Homo sapiens: one gene and its partner. The protein of the gene in region 2 purifies or fractionates together with the protein of the main gene of each other region. This does not show direct contact. Each region holds a gene or a part of one and is shown on either strand. Other genes may lie near its edges.

The links.
Region 1: the proteins of BTN3A1 (region 2) and SLC36A4 fractionate together in Homo sapiens (co-fractionation; one large-scale study listed by BioGRID). This does not show direct contact.

The regions. Positions count from the first base shown.
Region 1 is NC_000011.10:93,159,992-93,163,491, forward strand, and holds part of SLC36A4 (neutral amino acid uniporter 4), read right to left. Parts: intron 2,885-3,500; coding exon 2,715-2,884; intron 1-2,714.
Region 2 is NC_000006.12:26,408,481-26,412,711, reverse strand, and holds part of BTN3A1 (butyrophilin subfamily 3 member A1 isoform a precursor), read right to left. Parts: exon of another isoform or gene 3,990-4,231; coding exon of another isoform or gene 3,851-3,989; intron 3,180-3,850; coding exon 2,979-3,179; intron 2,819-2,978; coding exon 2,798-2,818; intron 2,707-2,797; coding exon 2,680-2,706; intron 1,604-2,679; coding exon 1,577-1,603; intron 1,158-1,576; coding exon 1,131-1,157; intron 301-1,130; coding exon of another isoform or gene 182-300; exon of another isoform or gene 8-181; coding exon of another isoform or gene 1-7. UniProt on the Homo sapiens protein: Plays a role in T-cell activation and in the adaptive immune response. Regulates the proliferation of activated T-cells. Regulates the release of cytokines and IFNG by activated T-cells.

The DNA of each region.
Region 1 (3,500 bases), on a different chromosome or scaffold from region 2:
AATCTCTAACTTTCGAGGCCTCTTGTGTGAAGCACAGGAAAGAAGTGAAAGAGAGACTCGTATATAGTATATTAAGAAAGAAATCTTAAATGTAATCCCATGATTATTCTAGTCCAAACTTCTCACTTTACAGAATGCCATGACTGTAAAAAGACAAGCAACTCTTCTCTTGTATTCCTCAGTTGTGACTATTATTTTAATTGTCCCACAACTGCAGAGTCCACACAGAAACAGACTATAGGCTGCATAGGGCATATCTCCACAGTGCAAAGGCATTAACCAATGCAAATTCTCTAAAGGGAAATATGTGTCTTGACTGGCTTTCCTGTTTTTTCCAGATTTTTGTTGTTTCTTAGGATACTTGTACTAGGGTTTCCTCTAATGAAAGGTGGTGTCTAGCTAGACTTCCTTGAATAGAAACTATGATCTAATGGTCCCTTTTAAATCAAGAGTCTCAACTAGTTCCATTCTAATTGGAAAGTCACAGCAATTAGGAATAAGGTCAGATGTAGAAAGGGGCTGTGGGAAAAGGGAAGGATTAATTGGAGCTACTGCAGGGACAGTGTCACCCTCCAAGATTGAGTTGTGAATACCAAAAGCATTCTGTCTTATTCTCGCCCACTATTTCTACACCACATTCTTATGTGCCTGGTAATACAAACCTTTCAATGTGAATGTGTGCACACTCCCACTTTGGAAACTTCCCCCCTAAAATATTCCTTACATGCTTTTGTAAATAAGACCGGGAAAGAATTTTGACATTATTTCCATGTACCTTTTACATTTGGCATTAAAAATAGTTGTCAATTTCTGAAATGATTATTTTTAAGACCTAGTCAAAATATTATTGTTATTATTAATATTATTGAGACAAAATGTCTCTCTGTTTCCCAGGCTGGAGTGCAGTGGTACCATCACAGCTCACTGTATAATCAACCTCCCAGGCTCAAGTGATCCTCCCACTCAGCCTCCCAAATAGCTGCAATTACAGACTTGTGCCACCATGCCTGGCTAATTTTTAAATTCTGTGTAGATTTGGAGTTTCACTATGTTATGCAGGCTAGTCTCAAACTTCTGGCCTCAAGTGATCCTCCCACCTTTTCCTCCCAAAGCACTGGGATTCCAGACATAAGCCACCATACCCGGCTCAAAATATTCTTCTAAATGAGGAAAAAATATCATTCTATTTTCCAAACATTGTACAGTATTTGAAAAGATGAACTTACTACCATATTTTTAGCTTGATTCTCTTATACTAAGCTGTTTAAGCTTGAAACCAAAAAGCACATTTGAAGGCAATAAAATTATATAATTAACTATAAAGAGTTAATAAAATAAATGCTAAATAACCATATATCTTATTTGTAATAATAACTCCACCTTGAAATATATTTGTAACATTTGAGACATGTTTCCATTTTGAAATACATTTATGTTAGCTGAAGTTAAATTGTAATTTAAAAATACAGACACACCACATGTATGCTCCTTGTGCAATGTGGAAACTATCCTAGGTCCATTTGCTCTGTCATAAATGGCTTCCTACAAACATTTGTCCTAGCAACATTTTTGACTCCAATAAATGCCCAGGATTCAAATGACTATTAAATGACAGACAAATTCTCACCAGGAGGCCAGTCAGAAGATATAATTTCTGCTGTTGTTGCTTTTTCACTAATATAGTAAGACATTTAAGATTACACAGATTTTTTTAATCCAAGTAGCTAAAGTAGTAGTGTGACAATAATTCAATCAGCGATTCCAAATTTATTCTTTGCGTATGTGAAAACTAAGGAGTTACCTTCCATCTTGTAAATAAGGAAGTAAGTCTGCATGGTAATCACTGCCACTATCTTTGAAAATTTTCCAAAGACAAACCTCTGGAAAAAGGAAAAATCATATACATATGATGCTTCATTTAGCAGGATATGGTCCCAATATGAAAGAGAACATTAAGATGATGCACCATTTTGTTTTATTATTTATAATGTGTCCCAACTGTGTTCTGAAAGGACTTGGAAAATATACACTATGAAGCTGACCAAAATAGCAAGGACCATAAATGATGTAATCTATTATTTTATTAGGAAGCGTGAGTGTTTGGCTTTTTTGGCAATAAGGACAAGTATTAATTTTTTTATTAAAACGTGTCCATATTAAAATAATCCCTGTTCTACTCTTATACTTGACTTGGATTTGGAAAAAACTCCAATTTTAAATATTTTTTTAAAAATCCCACAAGAACCCTAAGTTCATATTTGGTCTCCTACGAAGATTATGAAAAAATTCCAGATTGCACAAATAAATAAATCACAGTAATTTTTTTTTTGTTTTGAGACGGAGTTTCGCTCTTGTCACCCAGGCTGGATTGCAATGGTGTGATCTCAGCTCACTGCAACCTCCGCCTCCCGGGTTCAAGCGATTCTCCTGCCTCAGCCTCCTGAGTAGCTGGGATTATAGGCACCCGCCACCACGCCTGGCTAATTTTTGTATTTTTAGTACAGATGGGGTTTCATTATGTTGGCCAGGCTGGTCTTGAACTCCCGACCTCAGGTGATCCGCCCACCTCTGCCTCCCAAAGTGATGGGATTCCAGGAAATCACAGTAAAAATTTTAAATGTTTAAACCATAAATCCAAGAACACGACTTTATCATCAAACAGTGGTACATTATAAAATATATAAACTAATATTGACAAATTCATATACACCTACCATACATCTTGGGGAAGATTTAAAGTTATGCTGCCTTTGATTTCATCATGGAAACACATATATCCTAAAGTAGCTAATGTTACATACAAAGTTGTAACAATCCCCATGCCAATATTCAACGCTTGAGGGAAACGCTTTGATTCTTTCATTTGGTTTTCCAGTGGAAGGACCTAAGAAAAGAATACAATACTTTTTTTTAAGGGAATACAAGTATTTAAAAATAACAGTGTCTCTTATACATACAAATTGGTTGTTTATAGCCTATATGCAAATTTTTTTCCTTTAAAACACATATAATTGTTGAAGTACACTTCCATTGCTATATATTTATACTACCTATTTTAAACTTCTTAAAAAGATTTAAACTCATCTCTTGGCAGGCAAACCTGTTAGTTTTTTTTTTAAATAACCTTTTTATTTTGGGATAATTTTAGATTTACAGAAAAGTTACAAAGATAACACAGAGATCTCCCATATACCCCTCACCCAGTTTCTCCTACCATTAACTTTTTATATTACGATAGTACATTTGCGACAACTAAAAACCAATATTGGTACATCACTATTAACTAAACTGCAAATTTCATTTGGATTTCATTAGTTTTTCCATTAATATCCTTTTTCTGTCCCAGAGCTCCATCCAGGATACCCACAGTGCATTTTGTCACCATGCCTCCTGTCTGATCGTTTCTCAATCCTTGCTTGTTGTTCATTATCTTGCCAGTTTTAAGGAGTACTGGTTTGGTATTTTACATAAAACCCCTCCATTTAGGTTTTTCTGAGGTT
Region 2 (4,231 bases):
TCCTCACCTGAAAAATGGGGATAAACAAATGAATCTCTAGCGCTGTAGAAGGCAATCATGTTATTTACTCAGCCCACAGCAGGCCATGAAGGAAGCTCCTCATCTTCCTGATAGCTGCAAGGCCGTCTCTGTGCTGGGCTCTATGTGGTGCCTTATATGCCCTAGATTCACTCTCCACCCTTCAGCTTTCTCCACCCTCTTCTGGGCCCCAGGAATCTGTCCTCTGGGCAGATTCCTGAGACAGTGCCACTGGGCTCCCTTGTCCTCTGGTTTGCTGTTGGGTTTGGCCAATGGGAGGCCCTGATAGGAGATTGGAAGGAGAAAGAAAGGAGAGACACACCGTTTAATTTCCTGCTTCCTCCCTGCCAGCAGCAGCTGCTGCTGCTCTAACAAGGCCTGAAGACTCTTCTCAGGGAGCCCTCTCTTTGAGCTACTTCTTATTCTGGGTTCCAGTAACTGCCTCCCCTCCCTAGCCGTCCCAGTGTAGGAGTGGAGACAGCTCCCCACTGTTGGGAACCATGGGGGCACTGCACTTTTCCTTGTTGCTTTCCCTTAACCCTCCTTTCTGCAAACCTTCAACCACGCAGTTTGAACTCATCATCTCCTTCTTAAGGTTTTTGACCAATGGATATTTATTATTCCTTCAGTCTTCACCTCAACCCCCACAAACACAGATTGAAATCATCACCTAAATATGTGGAGGCCAAAGCTCAGAAGCATTAAGTTTTTTTGAGAAGGCACTGACAGTAGGTGGCATGAGAAGTCTGGGAAGGACTAAGTTCTTTGGGCAGGCATCGCCTCCTTTCCTTGGCATTTCCATCCTCACTCTCCCTGCAGTATTACTCAGTGTGTGTCTCCTTCCCCTCAGATCCACCCTTTATATGTCTTCCTTCCCAGGAAGGTCTGAGGAAGTGCAAGAGATCTATTCGCCCTGGTTCCCTGGGCTCTCAGCAGAAAGGGTCTTGGAGATGGGCCCACTTTTCAGATTGGAATTTAATGTTGCCTACCCCAAATTCTCCTAGTCATGGGAGCTTTTCTTCCCCAAATCACAACAGTTGGAGAAGTAAAAAGGAAAAAGGAATATAGTCCCTCAGGTTGTTGGTCCAGGGAACACACAGTGATTTACTCACCAGGCTTGAAGAGGGCCTTTTTCCATTCTGAAAGGAAGGAGACACAGATAAGGAAAAGGTCAGTATTCTTGTACTTTTCCCCACTGCACTCTCCCCTCACTACATGTTTTCTCTCCTTTTCTTCAGAGTCTCTTCCAGGGTCCAGCCTCCCTCTTCTACAGCTCTGATGGATCAGGGGTGGTACCTTCTCAAAAATGGTGAGCTCTGTTCCCTCTGCAATGAAGGGTACAGGCTGCAAGGCCAGGCTTTGCAAGGGGGTGTGCAGGGTCAGGAGTCTCTCTGATTCTCCAGAAAAGCAGAAATCAACCCCCCACAACACACAAATTGAGTCTTTGGGTTAAATCTGATTCATGCAAATGAGAACATCAATGGGTCACAGCAGAGAAAAGGTTGAAATGTTCATGGCACGTGTCCCAGCAAACTCAGAGAGCATCAGGTTCACTCACCATTATAGGCTGAATGTCTCTCTCCCCCTACAATGAAAAAAAGATAGAGATGTCACCTGAACTTGCCATTTTTGATTTGGCCCCATTCCCTTAACTTTACATCCATCTAATCTTTTTTTTTTTTTTTTTTTTTTTACCACCTGTATCTTCCTCCTCTGCAGGTTCAATTCTTTCTATTGTGTTGTTCTTAGTATCAAATCCAGGAACATCAGTCGAATGCTAGTGACATGGCAGACATTGCGAGAGTTCCTTCCTGATGGTGTTCAGCTGATCTATTTGGAATGTATCTATATACCTGTACCTGGGCATAGGTGTCTCCATGTCTATATGCACATATATATATACACATATATATATACATATATATGCACATATATATGTGTATATATGTATATATGTGTATATATATATTTAAATGTGTGTATGTGTGTGTGTGTGTTTGCAAGATCCTTCTATATCAATCTAATTTCGTACCTTACTCTGAAAAGAATTTGGGAAATTTAATGAGCAATTTCAGGGACTAGTGTTTGAAGTCAGTTAGAATAAATTGGTACCAACTGAGCGACTGTTCAGGCCACTTTTGTTTATTAGACACACTTTTCTCCCTCTCTCTTTTCAGATTTTCTTGTTCTTTATTATCTTTTATTCTTTTTCTTCTCTGGAGCCTATAGATTATGTAAAATGACTAGTGAAGTTCCTGCCATAGAGAATGCACTTCATCTACCTCTTCCCCCTTCCTTTACAAATGTGCCCCTGGATATTCCTCAGTGCTTTGCAGGGCTATAGAGTCTGTGGCCCCTGGTAGAGATAAATTGAAGGCATCTTTTCTTCGAGACCAGCTGAGAAAGAGAAAGAGAGGGAGAAAGAAACACTCCTCCTGGGTGTTACTCCAATCAGCCACACTCTTTCTTTTTTCCTTTCTTCTCTTTCCTTTTTTTTTTTTTCTTTTTGGCAATGACTAGGAATTGGCACATCTATTTTCTTTCCTTAGTCAAAGGGATCTAAGACCACTTCCCAACCTTGGGGAAAGAGTTAAGAGTGGAAACTATTCAAGCACAGACAGTTATAGATTCAAATTCAGAGAAAATGTCAGAGGCACTTACGAGATGCATACTGGATACTTCTCCATCCTGCAACGGAAGGAACAGGGGAAGATGCATCAAGGCGCATAAAGCAGGGACAGGAAGACATGCCTGGGTCTCTGGGGGAATGGGAACTTACTGAGTTCCTCCAGGAGCTTCACTGGAAAATAAGCAGAAATAATAATGAACTGTTACAGGTGAGGGGGTTTTCTAAAAAATTAACCTTAAAAGCAACTGAGCTCTGCGGTGGGGATGGGCGTGAGGTCTTTGGGCTTTGGCCCGTAAGCCAGGGGCTCAGATAAACTCCCAAGGTCAGCTACCTCTTGTGCTTTGTTCTTGCTTCATTGTGCTCCATGCCATTTCTCTCAACTCTTGCTCTCTCTTTTTCTTTCTGAACTGAGTCTTTTTTTCCTCCTGCTGTTGCCACAGGAAGTAACCGGCTCCCCCAAGAAGCAGCAGCAAGACAGGCAGGGTCCCTGCCAGGGCGGCGATCCACCTCTGGGCGCTCCTGAAGAAGGGGTCTGTGAAGGCAACGGCTGTGGGTCATGGGGGCCGGTGCACTCAGCCTCCCCAGACTGCAGCGCCCCAAGTGTTAGCTGCTCACCCCAGGTCACAGGGCACGGAATCTATCTCATGAGGTTAAATAATCTTTCTCATGCTAAAATCTCAGAGGACAGTGGGTAAGACTTTGATAAACCCCCACTAGAGGCTGCTACTATTACTTCTCTTGAGACGTCTGCCTCTCATGTGGAAAGTGAGTGACTTGAGGATATCAAACATATTTTTTTCTAATTCAACTTTTTAATAGGTAACACATGTACATGGTTCTAAAATACATGTATAAAAAGTCACGTAAGTCTCCCATCCACCCAGTCCTCCCTCCCACCCTCCCTTTCTTAACTTCAAATTAGTCTGCTTAATATGATGCTTAAGAACAGGAACTTTGGAGCTGGAGGCCCTGGGTGTCAATGCTGGCTCCTTTAGGTGACTTGCAGTGTGACTTTAGACTAATTACTTAACCTCTCTGTTCCTACTGCCCTTCTCCTGAAGTTAGAAGGATTAAATTAATACTTATAAAGTGCCTGACACCTAGTGAGTGTTATGACATTACTTGTTAACTTAAAAAAATGTAAATAAAAATATATTCTTGTTTTTCCTCTTATTTGCACTAAAGATAGCATTCCATACACACCACTCTGCATTTTGCTCTTTCTGTGCAAAGTTAATCTTGGAGGTTTTTCCACTTCACTATAGAGAGAATTATCTCTTTTTTCTTTCACAGTTGAGTGGTATCCATTGCATGAAAGTTCTCCAGCAGTGAACATCTGCATAGTTTCCAACCTTGTGCAGTCATAATCAGTGCTATAAAAAATAACTTTTTACATGGATCATCTCATACAAATGCAAGCTTATCTACCAAATAAATTCCCAGAAGCGGAATTTTGGATCACTAAAGATGTAGTTTGGATAGATATTGTTATATAGCCCCCAACAGAGGTTGTGCTAATGCACACCAAAAATACAAGTCATCCCAGCAGATGCCTAGGAGTCACAGCCTTCCTACATTCCTGCC